Regions from separate parts of the Homo sapiens genome. Here region 2 is linked to region 1. Evidence: fine-mapped expression QTL. Tissue or cell type: fibroblasts. Region 1 holds a variant in brackets; the other region holds the start of a gene. All regions are shown on one strand. Distances are between the middles of the regions.

Region 1 (8,109 bases):
TGAGGGTATTTTGCATATCTGTGGGGTCAGTGGTAATGTCTCCTTTGTCATTTCTGTTTGTGTTTTTTTAGATCTTCTCTCTTTTTTTCTTTATTAATCTAGGTAGTGGTCTATCTCTCTTATTTATTCTTTCAAAAAGCAAACTTCTGAATTTGTTGAACTTTTGTATGGTTTTTCACATCTCAATTTCATTCGATTCAGCTCTGATTTTGGTTATTTCTTGTCTTCTGCTAGCTTTGGGAGTTGGTTGCTGTTCTTTTCCTATTTCTTCTAGGTGTGATATTAGGTTGTTAATTTGAGATATTTCTAACTTTTTGATGTGGGCATTTATTACTATAAACATTCTTCTTCAGTCTGCTTTAGCTGTGTCCCAGAGATTCTGGCATGTGGTGAATTGATTCTCATTAGTTTCAAATAATTTCTTGATTTATGCCTTAATTTCACTGTTTACCCAAGTCATTCTGTAACAGATTGTTTAATTTCCATATAATTGTGTGGTTTTGAGAGATTTTCTTAGTATTAATGTCTTTTCTATCAGACTGTGCTCTGAGAATGTGGTTGGTATATTTTCAGTTTTTTATTTTTTTTAATTTTCTGAGGATTGTTTTCTGGCTAAATGTGTGCTTGATTTTAGAGTATGTGGTATGTGCAGAAGAGAAGAATGTATAGTATGTACAGAAGAGAAGAATGTATATGCTCTTGTTTTGGGGCATCAAGTTCAGTAGATGTCTGTTAGTTCCATTTGGTCAAGTGCTGAGTATAGGTCCTGAATATCTTTGTTAGTTTTTTCCCTCAATGATCTAATACTATCAGTGGAGTGTTTAAGCCTCTCATTATTATTGTTCAGTTATCTAGGTCTCTTCATAGGTCTGTAAGAACTTGCTTTATGAAGCTGGGTGCCCTTCTATTAGGTGCATACATATTTAGGATAGTTAGGTCTTTTCATTGAGTGAGTCCTTCACCATTAGGTAATGCTCTTCTTTGTCTTTTTAAATTGTTGTTGTTGATTTATAGTCTTTTTTGCCTGATACTAGAATAGAAAGCTCTGCTCTTTTCTGTTTTCTGTTTGCTTGGCAGATTTTTCTCCATTTCTTTACTTTGAGCCTATCGGGGTTATTGCATGTGAGATGGGCCTCTTGAAGCGAGCATACAGTTGGGTCTTGCTTCTTTATCCAAGTTGACATTCTGTGCCTTTTATTTGGGCATTTATACTGTTTACATTTAAGGTTAATATTGATATGTGTGGGTTTGATCCTGTCATCGTGTTGTTAGCTGGTTACTATGCAGACTTGATTGTGTAGTTGCTCTATATACTTAAATGTGTTTTTGTGGTGACCAGTAATGGTCTTTGTTTCCATGGTTAGCACTCTTTTAAGGACTTCTTGTAAGGCAGATCTTGTGGTAATGAATTCCTGTACCATTTGCTTGTCTGAAAAGGATCTTATTTCTCCTTTGCTTATGAAACTTAGTTTGGTTAGGTATGACATTCTTTGTTGGATTTTTTTTCTTTAAGAATGCTGAATATAGGCCCCCAAACTCTTCTGCTTATAGGGTTTCTGGTGAAAGGTCCACTGTTAGCTTGATGGTGATCTCTTTTTAGGTGACCAACCCCTTCTCTCTAGATGCTTTTAAGAGTTTTTCTTTCATATCTACCTTATGGAATCTGAGGACTATGTGTCTTGGGGATGGTCATCTCATATAGTGTCTCACAGGGGTTCTCCACATTTCCCAAATTTTAGTGTTGGCCTCTTTAGCAAGGTTGGGGAAATTTTCATGAAAGATATCTTTAAATATGTTTTCTAAGTTGCTTGTTTTTTTCTCTCTCTCTTTTAGGGATGCTAATGAATTGTAGATTTGGTCTCTTTACATTATCCCATATTTCTTGGAGGTTTTGCTCATTCTTTTTTACTCATTTTTATTTATTTTTGTCTGACTGAAATATTTTGGAGAGGTAGTCTTCGAGTTCTGAGACTCTTTCTTTGGCTTCATCATTTCTGCCGTTAGTACTTAGGATTGTATTATGTAATCCTTAAAGTGAGCTTTTCAGCTTTACCAGATCATTTCTTAAAGTGGCCATTTCATCTTTTCGCTCCTGTTTCATTTTATTGTACTTCTTATATCTCTTGGATTGGGTTTTGATTTTCTCTTGAATATGGATGATCTTTGTTCCTATCCATATTTTGAATTCTATGTGTCATTTGAGCCATTTCAGCCTGGTTAAGAACCATTGCTGACAAACTAGCGTGGCTGGTTGAAGGTAGGAAGACCCTCTGGTTTTCTGAGTTGCCACAGTTCTTGCACTGGTTCTTTCTCATGTGTATGGGCTGATGTTTCTTCAGTCTTCAGGTTGCTGTCCTTTGGATGAGGTTTTTTGCTTTTTCATCTTTGATACCCTTGGGAGTTTGATTGTGCTATAAGGTAGGTACAGTCAACTGGCCTCATTTGTGGAAGATTTTATGAGGCCAAGGCTCAGCTCAGCACTCCTGGACTATGTGCTCTAACTCTGGGGGGCTGGCAGTGGGGCCCTAGCTTTGTTCTCTGGCCCCTAAAGGTTAGGAACCTGCTGCACTGGAGGGGCCAAAGTGTTCCCAGTCTGCTGTCCACAACACCCCGATGAGGGCTGCCCACTAAATTACTTCATCAAGGTGTTGGCAGTGGAATTTGTGCTCGCTTGCACATGCCAGCGATTGCAGCAATGCTCAGTGTGTATGTGAATTGCCTGGGATGTGGGACCAGTGGAAGCAGGGCAGTGGCATTCCTGCTGCACCTCCTCATGCAGGTGGTTGTGGTGGTGGTGACATGACAGGGTCAGGGCACTGTGGTAACAGGTTGTCTGGCATTTGTGCCAGTGGTGGTGGCATGGGGTTGGGTGTCAGGGTGTGCTAGCACCAGCAGAGGGAGGTTGTGGTGGGGGAAGACCGTGGCAGCCCTGTGTGTTTCAGCCGGTTCCAGTGCACTGGAACTCTCTGACAGTCAGGTGCAGTCTGCCAGCAAAGGAGCTATGGTAAAGTTTTCCAGGAAGCACCCTGTTTGGGCATCTGAGGCTGCACTGCAAGTGGGTGCAACCAGTCTGGAGCCCTAGGAGAGGCCAGAAGACAGGGTAGTGCTCAGATCAGACTAGCCCCATCTCACAAGGAAGACCACCCTGCTGTGTCCAGGTATGACAGTCACCCCTAGGCTAATGTCTCCTAGAGGAGCGTAGGTGTCCCTGGCTGTGCTCCATTGCAGCCACTCCCATGCCAAACTCTCTGAGCTGTGCACTGGCTGGAGTCCTGCTCCTGCCACCTCTCCTGGCAGCTCTCCCTGCCAGGGTAAGTGTTTGTGGAGGTCATGGGGTCTCCTGCTGATAGGATTCTGGAGATCCAAGGTGAGAGCAGGCCATACCTTGGCTGTTCATCTCACTCCTTCCCCAGGAGACGCTGGAGCCCAGGAATGAGTCCCTTTGCTCAGCAGCCCTGTGCAGGGTTCCTAGCATCCTTTCCCTCCAGCCTGGCCTCTATGTCTTCCTTCCATCCACTCATTGCCTTCTCTCCAAAGATCTGCTCAGAGAGTATTTCATTCTTCCCTATGTCCCTGTCTCTTGATGGGAGATGTTCCTCCTGGCTGTGCTTAGCCGGCCGTCTTGGCTCCCCAGCCGCATTTTTATAGGATAATTAATTAGAAGGGCAGTATAGTTTTAGACTGAGACCAGTCTAATTTATAACATCTCTGTTCACATACTTTCTGGCTGTGTATATCCTTGGGCAAGTGGCTTTATATCATTAAGTTTTATATTCTTCTCCAATTGTAAAAGCAGGTGAGTTGTCACTTAATGGGGCTAATGTAGAAATTAAATAAGATAAATGTCAGTTGCAAACCAAGGGTCTGAAACATACTAGATGTTAAACTGATGGTTTACTAGTATTGGTGATGGTATCTAGTTTTCAAGCACAATAGAGTGGAATTTTGGTTTATAAACCAAAATTCTGTTAAGAAACAGTATTTTTAAGGCTATTCAGCAGAGACAATTTTTACCAATTTCATCTATATTTTAAATTTAAATGTTTCTTTTATTTTGAAATAATTTTTCGCAAGGCTTTGCTTTTCAAATGTAAATGTTTAATCTTTTAAACACATTGGCTCTCTGGGCACCTAAAACTCTCTTCACTATCGACACTTTAGGATTTACTGGCCATGCTGTTGCTTCTGTTTTAATTTGCAATAGAGCACTTGTATAAATGTACTTTGAAATGTTTGGAAAGTTGTGTATGGACTGGAAAAATGCATGCGAGATGTTCCTTTGCTTTGTATATTGTGAAAGGGAGGATTTGTACATGCTTTGTTGTTGTTGTTACATACGCTAGTTTACTGTTTTGAACATAATTTGTTTACTACTTTGAATTCCCTATTTGATG[G/A]AAGTGAAATGTGATCTTGCTGGACAGTAGAAGGAAAGACTGCCTGTATTTCATGCTCATACCTACTAAAGCATCAGACTGTTTCATATTTAAGAGCAGTTTAAAAAGCACGTGAGGGTCTTCTTAATCTTAATTCTAGTGTCTTAAAAAATGTATGTGGAGATTATATGTTTTTGAGACACTATAATTAAGGTCAAGAAGGGAGGTAATTTGCATTCCCCTTGAAAAAGCTTTGATACCAGCTCTGGGGACTGAGGGGCATTGTCAGTGAGAGGGCCCCACACAGAGGCTTCTATGTCTCCAGCCTGCAGCCTGGAGAACTATGAAGACTTCTGTTTAGCCTCACACAGAGGAAGGCAGAATAAACAAACTGAAATGGCCCAAACAAGCTACTGGGTTTTTCCCTAGACTTAGGGTAAGGAAAAGGATCAGGCACTGATTTGACAAAAAAAAAAAAAAAAAAAAAAAAAGTGAGCATACAGAAAAATATTTATAGGACACTCTATGCCATGCTCCTGGTTCACTGCAGATTATCAATCAGTGGAAAGTGATAGAAGCAATGGATCAGCAGAATGGGTATAGAGGTAAGACAGCAGTTGCAGCAGCAGTGGTGCTTGGCTCTGGTAGGGCTGGTGGAGCAGGGTTGCTGTATTAGAAGAGTCAGGACTTGTTCATATGTCTGTCTCTCCCTCTCCCCCAGATCATAGCTGAATACCCAGCCCTGGACTTTGCAGATAATAAGTGTAGCAAATATTTTTTAAAACATTTATCAGCATCATTTAAATTATTACAAAAGTTTATAAATTGAATCCTATATAGTGCATTGTTCCCCTTAACTATTTCTGATTATATATCATCTTGTTATTTTAGATATTGAAGAATTTATCCCTCATGTTTCCTCAATTTTGTGTGTGTATGAGTGAGGAACCACAAAAGTGTTTTCCTAAAAAAATACTTGCTAATATTCTGCTGTGTGTTGTATTTTGGTCCTAATGTTGAAAAACAAATATCCTCAAATGACCTCAAATCTTGCTACCTAGGGAAGGAAATAGTGGCTTTTGGGAAATCAAGAACTTTTGAATATAAAAAAGTACCTAGAAGAATAAAAGGCACATTCCTTTATGTATCTTATTAGGCTTTCTTTTTTTCCTAAGTAGTAAAACAATCATTAGTTTCACTGAGTATTTTGGACAGCATATTAGAAATTTGAAGTACCAAGTTTACTATTCTTTACTGGAGATTGTCCAGCAGAGGAAAGCAAATACCAGTGGATGTGTGGAAGCATTTTCTGATCTTTAACACGTACACCTGCTATACCTAACAGCCTGCTCAGAAGAAGGTTCTATTTCTAGATGGTAAATGAGAGCTTCCCAGTGGACCATTATTTTATCATGAGTGGTAGTGGGAGGAGGGACAGCGTTTGGACATGAGGGAATTATCATGTATGCCATCATATCATTGCTAGGTCATTTATCTCTTGTCTAGCCAAGTTCACGTTAAATTCTACTAGGTTAGCACTTGAGGTCATTTAACAAAACTGCTGTTTATTAAGAATGGGAGACATGTTCTTCTTTGAATCCTGCAAGAGGTGGTTGCTGAAAATAATAGGAACCATATCTTCATATTTTAGGCAAAAGTCACTTTTAAGAAGCTTTGTGATAAATCACCTAGAGAAGCCAGTGAATTATGCCCTAATGGTTGGAATGAGACAAGTTTTCTAATAGTGATGACAATTATTAATTACTAATCACAAGTATGTGTGTGGTGGGAGTGAATCTCAAAGCTATAATAAAAGGAAATTTGTGCCTTTTTGCATAATGAATGAGAAAAGTCTCTTTAAAAGAGCAAAGAAAACTATTAAATTATAAAATTGTTGAATTTCTTGTCACAACCTTTAGAAACTCTATAAACTCATCTAAAACCCCAATTCACTGTAGTGTGAAAAATAGATACATATTCAGAGTGATCATTTATCTTGAATTAAAATTAAGCATCCGAGTCATTACAAACTTATCTCCTGCTTATGGACATGCTGACATAAAAGTATTTAAAACTTCTGAGTAGAAAAGGATATTAATGATGCAAGGATAGGCCAGAAAATGAATACACTTCTTACTAAGGAAATAATGATTGTTATTCAAGCTGCAAAACCTAAACATGGAAAGGAAGGTAAACTGGCGTTTATTAAAAATCTTTCTTTATTTGTTTGCTAACCTCAGTCCTAGTTGTATTCACATTTGTTACTTTGTTTAATCCCCCCAATAATCCTTAAATGTAGATATTACAACAACTTTACAGATGATGAATTAAAGTTTGCTAAACATTGAATTAATTTGTAATCAATCACGTAACTGCTGAATGCTAGAGTCTAAACCCTAGCCTAGGCAAACATGCCTCCAAACCCCCTCCATTTTCCATTATACCAAGCTGTGTGGAACTGAGTACTCCCTGTTCATGTCTGCCATTAGCTATTGAGCATTATGGTAGGCAAAATAATAGACCCCCTGGCCAAAGATGTCCATGCCCTAATTTCTGGAGCCTGTAATAATGAAGTGATGGACCTTGAGGTGGCAATACTATCCTGGATTATGTAGCTGGACCCAATGTAACCACAAAGTCCTAAAGATAGAAGAAAGAGTCAGCAGAGTCACAGTCAGAGGAGTCAGGACAGAAGCAGAGGTTGGAGTGATGTGATTGTTGGCTTTGAAGGAGGAGACCATGAAACAAGTGACTTCTGTAAGCTGGAAAAGACAAGGAAACAAGTTCTTCCTAAAGCCTCCAGAAGGAATACAGCCCTGCTGACACCTTGATTTTAGCCCAGTGAGACGCATTTTGGGCTTTTGACTTCCAGAACTATAAAATAGATTTGTGTTGTTTTAAACCACGAAGTTTGTGGTACTATCACAGTAGCAAGGAAACTAATACAGGCATCTTAACAGTTGCTAGCTGCAGTGAATTTTTCATAATTTTTGTGAATTTTCAGATGTGGCTTTGCTTACTATCATTTCTGTAATCCTGGTCTCATAGTGCCACCTGAAAATGTTGAGAAACGTAATTCAGTCATAGGTTTCAGATTTGAAGAGCAATTAAACTATATATGAGGGTTCTCATATAAGAAGTAATTGGGTTCCTTTATTTCAAAGCAGAATATCAAAAGAGAGTCAGAAGGATTTGACATGTTTGATGTAGAAAACTTTATTATTATTGTTATTGTTTTGGTTGTGGTTATTTTTCACTGCACCTTCCTCAGCACTCTAAGTCCAAAAGAGCCCTTTTTCAAAATTTCATCTTTTTCTTGTTAATAATAGAGATCTCTGTGCCTCTAAATGGTGTTTGGTCAGTGAGTTTTGTAATCTTAAATGGCAGAAATGTCATGACATGTAATTTTGTGAGAAAAGGATACTTACCCCTCCTAGCCTTTACATAAGTGAAATATAGTAAATGCTCTTAAAATAATTGTACATTTTCTTGTGAGAAATAACATTCCTTGTACTTTATGAGAAAAATATGTGTAAAGTTGCACATCATAGAAGATGCAGATTTTAATATCCAGTGTATTTCAGCAGTTTGGTATCAGAAAAGTGCACTGAGCTAGTGTTAAATAACTTTTTATTAGAATGTCCTCTCTATTGTTAAGTTGCCACATTATATGAGGAAACTCACTTCAGTTTTTGTGCCTTGGTTTCGTTGTTGTAAAATGGAGAGAATGGTACCT
Region 2 (8,104 bases), 270 kb after region 1:
AAGTCTTTAAAAATTAACCCATATTTATAACCTATGTCCTAGATAAAGACTCGCTCATTCTGTAATCTTCAGGATTACAGAGGATCACTCACTGAGCCTGTTCTATCAATAAAACGTATGACATGGCGTAGATACAGTTTAAGTCTCTTCAAAAGGTTTCATGGGATGATGGTGAGAGAATTCCTTCCACCTCTCCATTTTCCTTTAAATGTATCACATATAGATTTTTACTGTGTTTTGGAATAATTAGCTTTCAATAACTGACTCCTGTTTAAAATTACCTAAAATCTGAATATGAACTGTGTCTTAAATGATAATGAAGAACTTTAATTTTTATTAATTGAGATGAGTTTTTTTTTTGAGACAGAGTCTCGCTCTGTCACCCAGGCTGGAGTACAGTGGGCAATCTCAAATCACTGCAACCTCCGCCTCCTGGGTTCAAGCAGTTCTCCTGCCTCAGCCTCCTGAGTAGCTGGGATTACAGACGCATGCCATCACGCCTGGCTAATTTTTGTATTTTTAGTACAGAAGGGGCTTCACCATGTTGGTCAGGCTGGTCTCGAACTCCCGCCTCGGCCTCCCAAAGTGCTGGGATTACAAGCATGAGCCACCGCGCCTGGCCGTCCTCATCGTTTTTAAAAAGCACATATTTTTAAGAAATTCATACTGAAGTATTTATGGGTGAAACGACATGATGCCTAGGATTTCCTTACAAATACTTAGGCCAAAAGAAGAGGAGACAAGACAGATGAAGGAAATGTAATAAAAAGTTGTTGTTTACTGCAACTGAAGGAGGGTATATGGATGTTCATTATATTATTATTTTGTGTATGCTTAAAATTTTTCATTAAAAAAATTTTAAATGTTGTCCAAATAATTAATATTTCTATTACACAGTCTAAACAATTTATTTGTTAAGACCATACTCTAAAGATCACTGAAAGACTATGGCTATTGCACAACAAAAATATTTTAATTTTCTTCTAAAAATTATAGTTCAAAGCCTTAAATATTTGTCAATACATGTGTCAAATGCAAAGAATAAAGATTCTGAAAACGCAACTCATTAAAACCATTACTCATCAGGCATTGCTGCTTGATTATTGTTACTGGTAAGATAATCAAGTGAGCAACCAGCACAATTCCTCTGGTCTTTTGTAATATCAGTATTAGAAGCCACCCAACAACGTAATTTACAAAAGTGAACAACACCTACACTCACAGAAAGTTATAACGAAGAAATACCTGAATAAATGAAAGAGTTCTCTAGATGAATTCACTAATGCTGTTTCAGTAACCCACTGAATGCCAAATATTTCCAAGGTATCTTCTTCAAAATTAGTTGGTAAAGGGTCAAGATTCAAAATCAATCTGAAATGAAAATTGTTTCAATCTCATAAAAAGTATACTAAGTACCATAATACGACGGCTCTTTTCTTTACATTATTTGAATCCATATTATACATGACATGTATAAAAAGTCAGAAAATGCCTTGGTACTTTACACATTCAAGATTACAATAGCTAGACTGTATTAAAACGTCAATCTTCTATATTGATAAAATGTACGACTAAAGTGTAATGTAACTTAAGAGGAAAAATCAACAAGAATTCTAAAAAACATATTTCTGCCTGTCTTCACCAGTAGTCTTCAGTTGTAGAATTTCATCCTTTGAGGGGACATTTAATTTTAAAACTGCTAACAGTTATTCTGAGCCATGTCTGGAGAATAGTATCCAACTAATGAAGTTGAGTATTCTATTTAAGATTTCTAACAAGGTACAACTATAAGGTCAACAAAAATAGTTTCCTCACTGAAACTGCCTCAGCAGGTATTACCAAAATATTTCAAGAACAGTTTTACTGTAATATATATGTACCTGCCCAAGGCAAAATAAGTCTATACACTTCTATATGTGCAGGTAGGATTAGAAGGAACAGGGGCAATAAAAAATGTTTGTCTCTCTTAAATATTACTGGAAAGCTCTAGAATATTATCACACTCTTTAGAAGGAAATACTACTGCAAAAGGCTCAGATAGTTAGGAATTCATTTTAAGTAGAAGAAAAATTAGTGCCCAGCTCCCTACAGTAAGGGAACATCAGTTACCAAGGAAGTTTTCCCTAATACCCCAAATACTTTAGATATGCCCTTACCAAGAAGCCAGCAGAACTGATAATCATTTGTACCCTTATGATATACTAAGCTGATTTATAAAACACGACTTGGTGAACACCAAAGTTTAATGGGCTGAAATAACTAACATTCCTAAAAAACTGGTGAATAATCAGATGAGGGAAAATGTCTCTGAGTTTTACCTACCGCTTAAGGGCTCCGCTGCAGAGGTAGGATTCTCCAGAAAAATGTTTTCCTCCTCCTCTGTTGTCAACAGCACAAGAAAAGTAAGGAGGTTTGCACCATTCCGTCCCCAGCTCCAGCTCTAAGCTGTCAGTCAGGAACGTCGATGCAGCAGAACAGTTCTCCATTGTTTACTTCATGTTCTGAAACACTTGGGGTTCGTCGTATCATTAAGGGCTCCAAAGAGAAGGTGTGAAGAGATTCCTGTTGGGGGGGGGGGGGTGGGGCCGAGAGAGTGGGGATTACTTCAGAAAGTTCTCAAGACGTCCGCCAGCAGGAAGGAAAAACAAACGAACAAACCCAGAGGCCAAATTCCCAATTCCCCCTCGCCCTCCGTCCATCAAGGCTGTCAGAACTTAAGACAAAATGCACAACCAACTGGCTGTGGCAGGGACCTCGAAATCCGGCCACTAAGTCGGGCTCTGCAGCCCAGGACAAGGTGAAAAGCAAAGAAATGTCTGCAGGACATAGCGTCCCGGGCTTGCCTAGAACTGCGCCCTCCGCAACGTTTCTAAACCACTCTCCGCCCGTTTCCCAGCAGCAGGGTGGAGAACGCTCCCTCCCCGGCTCGGGGTGGAAATTAGGAAAGCAACCCCTAGGGCCAACCCCGACCCTCCAAGGAGGAGGCGAGACCCACCAGGCCCACGCCTGGCAGCACTCGGGCGGAGAAGGCGGGGTGCCGGTATCCCGCGTACCCGGCTGCAGCAAGGACCCGGGGCGTCGGTTACCCGCGGTGCCTGTCGTACCCGCTCACATTTCCAGCTCCCGAAACCTGCCTCCTGTGACCCAGACCACCAACAGGAATCTTTGGGGTCTAAACCGCAAACAGGCGAAATTCCCGCCACCGCGCGCCCGCGCTCCGGAAAGGCGGGGCCACGGCGCAGCCCTCCCCCGGCTACCAATCGCCTCGCGATATCTGCGCGGAAACAGTCGGAGCCCCACGAATTCTCGCGAGAGTCCGTCAGTCCGGGACGAGGTACTGAGAAACTTTTTTTTTTGTACCTTTAATTGGTGCGTTCGGCTGAAAGGCGGGGCCTGGTAAAAAAAAAAAAACAGAACTGCTGCTGAGGCGGAGGAGAGGACTTAAGGACTATGGGTTTATCCTCTGGCCGGACCAAAGAGAAGATATTTACTCCAGTGAGTGCGAAGTGAGTGCCTCGTTCACACCCACAGTCGCGCCGTCCCCTCTTCCCGCTCTGGGGCCAGCAACTCTTGTTAGAATGCAGATGCCTTTTGTCCATGGACTGTGAGGCAGGCAAGTGCAACAATTAATTTTCTCTGTAACAGATGGAACAAGTAGACAGAAAATTAGTATGGATATGGAAAACTTGGAAAGCACTAACCAACTTGACCTAATTGACGTTTATAGGTGACCAACCCAACAATAGCAGAATACACACTCCTGTCAAGTGCACATGAAACATTCACTAAGCGATACCATATTCCGAGCCATAAAACAAATGTCATCAACTTTAAAAAGATTTAAATCGTACAAAGTGTATAGTCTGATCATAATGGCATTAAACTAGAAATAAAGTAGATACTTGAAATACTCTAAATATTTGGAAATTAAGAATCATACTTCTAACTAACCTGTGAATCAGGAAAAATCACAGGAAAATTAGAAAATACGTTGAATTAAATTAAAATGAAAACACTAAAATTTGTAACAGTACCTGCTTACATTAAAAAGAAGAACTCAATTCAATAAACTTTTGTCTTAAGTAACTAGAAAAAACCCCCAGCATATTGAAACCAAAGCAAGCAAAATGAATGAAATGATAAATAGTAGAAATAAATGGGATGAAATAAATGGAAGGAAATACATGCAAAAGTTGTTTTTCTAAAAGAGCAATATAATTGATAACCCCCCTACCCAAACTGATAAAGAAAATAAACAAATTATCAGTATCAGGAATTAAAAAGGTTTCATCACTATGAAATTTAGTCATTAAAAGGACAAGGATATTAAAAGAACATTATGAACATTTTTATGCCAATAAGCATAGGTGAAATGGACAAATTCCTTAAAAGACGCAAACTGTCAAAAATCAACAAAAGAAGAAAATTTGAGTATCTCTGTATTTATCGTAGTACTCAGAATCTTTGGTTAAGCCTCCCTCCTCTCTCTCTGCACACACACACACACACACACACACACACACACACACACACCACTTCTTACAAGAAAACTTCAGGCCAGGGCAGGCACAGTGGCTTTGGGAGGCTGAAGTAGGTGGATCCCTTGAGACCAGGAGTTCCAGACCAGCCTGGGCAACATGGTGAAACCCTGTCCCTTGTCTCCACAAAAAAAATACAAATATTAGCCAGGCGTGGTGGTGCTCATCTGTAGTCCCAACTACTTAGGGAGGCTGAGGTGAGAGGATCACTTGAGCTGGAGAGTTCGAGGCTGCAGTGAACTGTGAGTGTGCCATTGTACTCCAGCCTGGACAACAGAGCAACACCATTTCTCAAAAGCAACAAAACAAACAAACACTCTCCAGGCCAAATGGCCTTACTATTAAATTCTCCCAAACATTTAAGGAAGGAGTAATACCAATTCTATACTAACTCTTAGAGAAATTAGGAGATTGGATGCTTGTTTTATGAGGCTAGCACCACACTGGTATCGAAACCTGACAAAAGACAATTACAATACAATATCACATGCAAACATAAAAGCAGAAATGTTAGCAAGCAAAATCCAGCAGTACATAAAAAGGATGACATATGATGGCAAGGTGCAGTGGCTCACGCCTGTAATCCCAGCACTTTGGGAGACCAAGGCGGGTGGATCACTTGAGGTCAGGAGTTCAAGACCAGCCTGGCCAACATGGTGAAACCTCGTCTCTACTAAAAATACAAAAATTAGCCGGGTATGGCGCCATGTGCCTGTAGTCCCAGCTACACAGGAGGCTGAGGCAGGAGAATCGCTTGAACCCGGCATGGGGAGGTTGCAGTGAGCCGAGATCGCGCCACTGTACTCCAGAACAAGACTCCGCCTCAGAACAAACAAACAAAAAGGATGACATATGACAAGAAAATTAGATTCATGTTAGGAATGCAAGGTTATTCAAATTTCTACAAGTAATCAGTTCATTATATCAAGTCTATAAAAAGAAAAACTGTCATCTCAATAGACACTGAAAGATCACTTGATAAATTCAACATCTATTCATGATAAAAACTCTCTGCCAACTAAGAATGGAAGAAAACTCCCTACCTTATATGTGATATCTATGACAAACCTGCTATTAATATCATACTTAGTTATAAAAATGTATGTTCTTTTCCTAAGATTGAGAAAAAGGCAATGATGTCCACTTTTTCCACTTCTCTCAACATTTTACTGGAGGTAACTAGTCAATGCAATAAGGAAGATGAAGAAATAAATGTCATATAGATTGAATAAGAAGAAGTAAAACTGTCTTGATTTTCAGATGACATAATTATTCATATAGAAAATCCTAAAAAAATCTCTACAAATATATATAAAAACTATGAGTTCAGCAAGGTGGCGGGGTTCAGTGACACACAAAAATTAATTGTATTTTATAGACATGAAAAGACAATTTGAAAATTAGAGTTTAGAAAACAACACCATTTAATGACATAAACAAGGTTTAAATTTAACAAAATATGCGTCAGATTTTGTTTGCCAAGGATTCCAAAATATTGCTGAAAAAAATTCAAGAATATTCAAGTAAATAGAATGAGATAGCATAATCATAAATTGGAAGACTCAATATTATTAAAAGTTCTTCTGAAGTTTATCTATGGCTTCAAAGGACTGCCAATCAAAATCCTAATCCCAGAGAACTTTCTTTTGTAGAAATTGACAAATGCATTCCAAAACTGATATGGAAATGCAAAGGGCCTAGATTAACCGAAACAATTTTGAGTAAGAATAGTGTTGAAAGAATTCCAGTACCTAATTTCAGGACTTGCCATTAAGTTACAATAATCAAAACAGTATGATTTTGATCTAAGGGTAGACATAGCCAGTGGAAAAGAATAGAGACTCCAGTAACAGGCCCCCATACACGTTTGATCAGCTGCTTTTTGGCAAAGGTAATTCCATGGTGAAAGGATAGTCTTTTCAACAAATAGTGAGAGAACTATTGGATACTGATACACTTAAAAATGAACCTACCTCATATTATAAAATTTAACCCAGTAAGGATCATAGACCTACATGTAAAAGCTAAAACTCTTAAAAACTTTTAGATATTCAGCTTGCTAGTAATCAAGAAAATGCCAGCAAAGAAAAGCAAGAAATAAGGCTAGTCCACAGAAGAAAAATCAAGTGTGTGTGGTATGGTATGATGTCTGTCATGAAATCCAAGAGAAGTATTTTATGAAAGAATGGGTAAGCTAATAAAGGAAAACAGATTAATCATTGGTATTGGCAAGAAATAGGTCATTACTAATGTTGATAAAAGCTGTTTAAGTTGAGTAGTTGGGGAAAAACATCTGATAGGAGTGGGTCATATAGAAAATGGGAGGTGAATCAGCAAATATCAAAACTTTACCCAGGAATTTAATTGAAAATAAAGCATAAAAATAGGACAGAGGGACATATAGGGATCAAGAAATGGTATTTTCAAGATAAAAGATGTTAGAACATGTTTGCGAGGCTATGGCAGTTATTAAATGGAAAGAAAAAAGATGCTGAACAGAAGGGGAATAATTGCAAGAATAAAGGCATTGAAAAGATGAGAGGGGATAGTATTCATTACACAAATGACATATCAACCTCTGATAGGCTCAAGAAAAAATTTTTATCCTAATAGGAAGAGTAAAAAAAAAAAGTAAATCTTAAAAATACAGAATAAGATGGCTGGAGGTGGTGAACTACGTGTTGGAATGTTGAGTTGTTTTTGTTTTATTTCACCTATTTCTCTATGACACATCAACTGGAAGTGAGAAGGAAGAGTAGTTGTTAGAAATTAGAGAAGAGGTGCAATATTGTCATATTGGTGAGTAGAAAAGTATATTTACTAGGCAAAGATAATAAGAATGTCTGGAAGTGTTGAGTTATCATTTGAGATTTGTGACAAAAAATTAGAGTTCAGTCATCATGGTTTTGTCATTTTCTCCAGCACCATTCAGCTACTTGGTAAAAGAGGGCAGGACAGGCCAGGTACGGTGGCTCATTCCTGTAATTCCAGCACTTTGGGAGGCCAAGGCAGGTGAATCACTTGAGGTCAGGAGTTCAAGACCAGTCTGGCCAACATGGTGAAACCCTGTCTCTTCTAAAAATACAAAAATTAGCCAGTTGTGGAGGCACACACCTGTAGTCCCAGCTACTCGGGAGGCTGAGGCAGAAGAATTGCTTGAACCCGGGAGGCAGAGGTTGCAGTGAGCCATTATCGTGCCACTGCACTCCAGACTGGGTGACAGAGCGAGACTCCATCTCAAAAATAAATAAATAAATAGAAAACCAACAACAACAACAACAAAAAACAGGGAGGACATATGATAGAATTTGAATGTTGTATAATAAATGAACCCATTCTAACTTGCTGCTTTTTAAAAAATATACCCACAAACCATCTATTTAATAATGTATTCTTGTGTTTTCAGGTATCAGACTCAAAGTCAAACAATTTAATATGAATGTCATGTTTTGTAGGAGGGAAACTTTTCACAAATTCAACTTAATATGATATATTCCACTGATTGAAAGGTCTCAGTTTCAGAAAGTTTATGATTTTAATTGAAATCTTATTTAAAGTTTAAGACT

The links. PIP is the estimated chance that this variant, and not a neighbour inherited with it, causes the effect.
Region 2: it holds the start of MMS22L, and the variant in region 1 is fine-mapped to the expression of MMS22L in fibroblasts (GTEx, PIP above 0.99).

Annotation. Positions count from the first base shown.
Region 1 is chr6:97,005,288-97,013,396 of GRCh38, forward strand. The region is part of intron 3 of KLHL32 (kelch like family member 32); the gene reads left to right. Among named protein-coding and RNA genes, the nearest start is that of KLHL32, 85 kb to the left of the region's middle. The variant G/A (reference allele first, on the strand shown) is at 4,395.
Region 2 is chr6:97,279,992-97,288,095 of GRCh38, forward strand. It overlaps MMS22L (MMS22 like, DNA repair protein), which reads right to left and starts at 3,225. Exons shown (of 25, transcript NM_001350599.2): 1 at 3,105-3,225; 2 at 2,323-2,562; 3 at 1,246-1,371. The coding sequence starts at 2,486. RefSeq lists enhancers at 2,802-3,061, 3,442-3,501.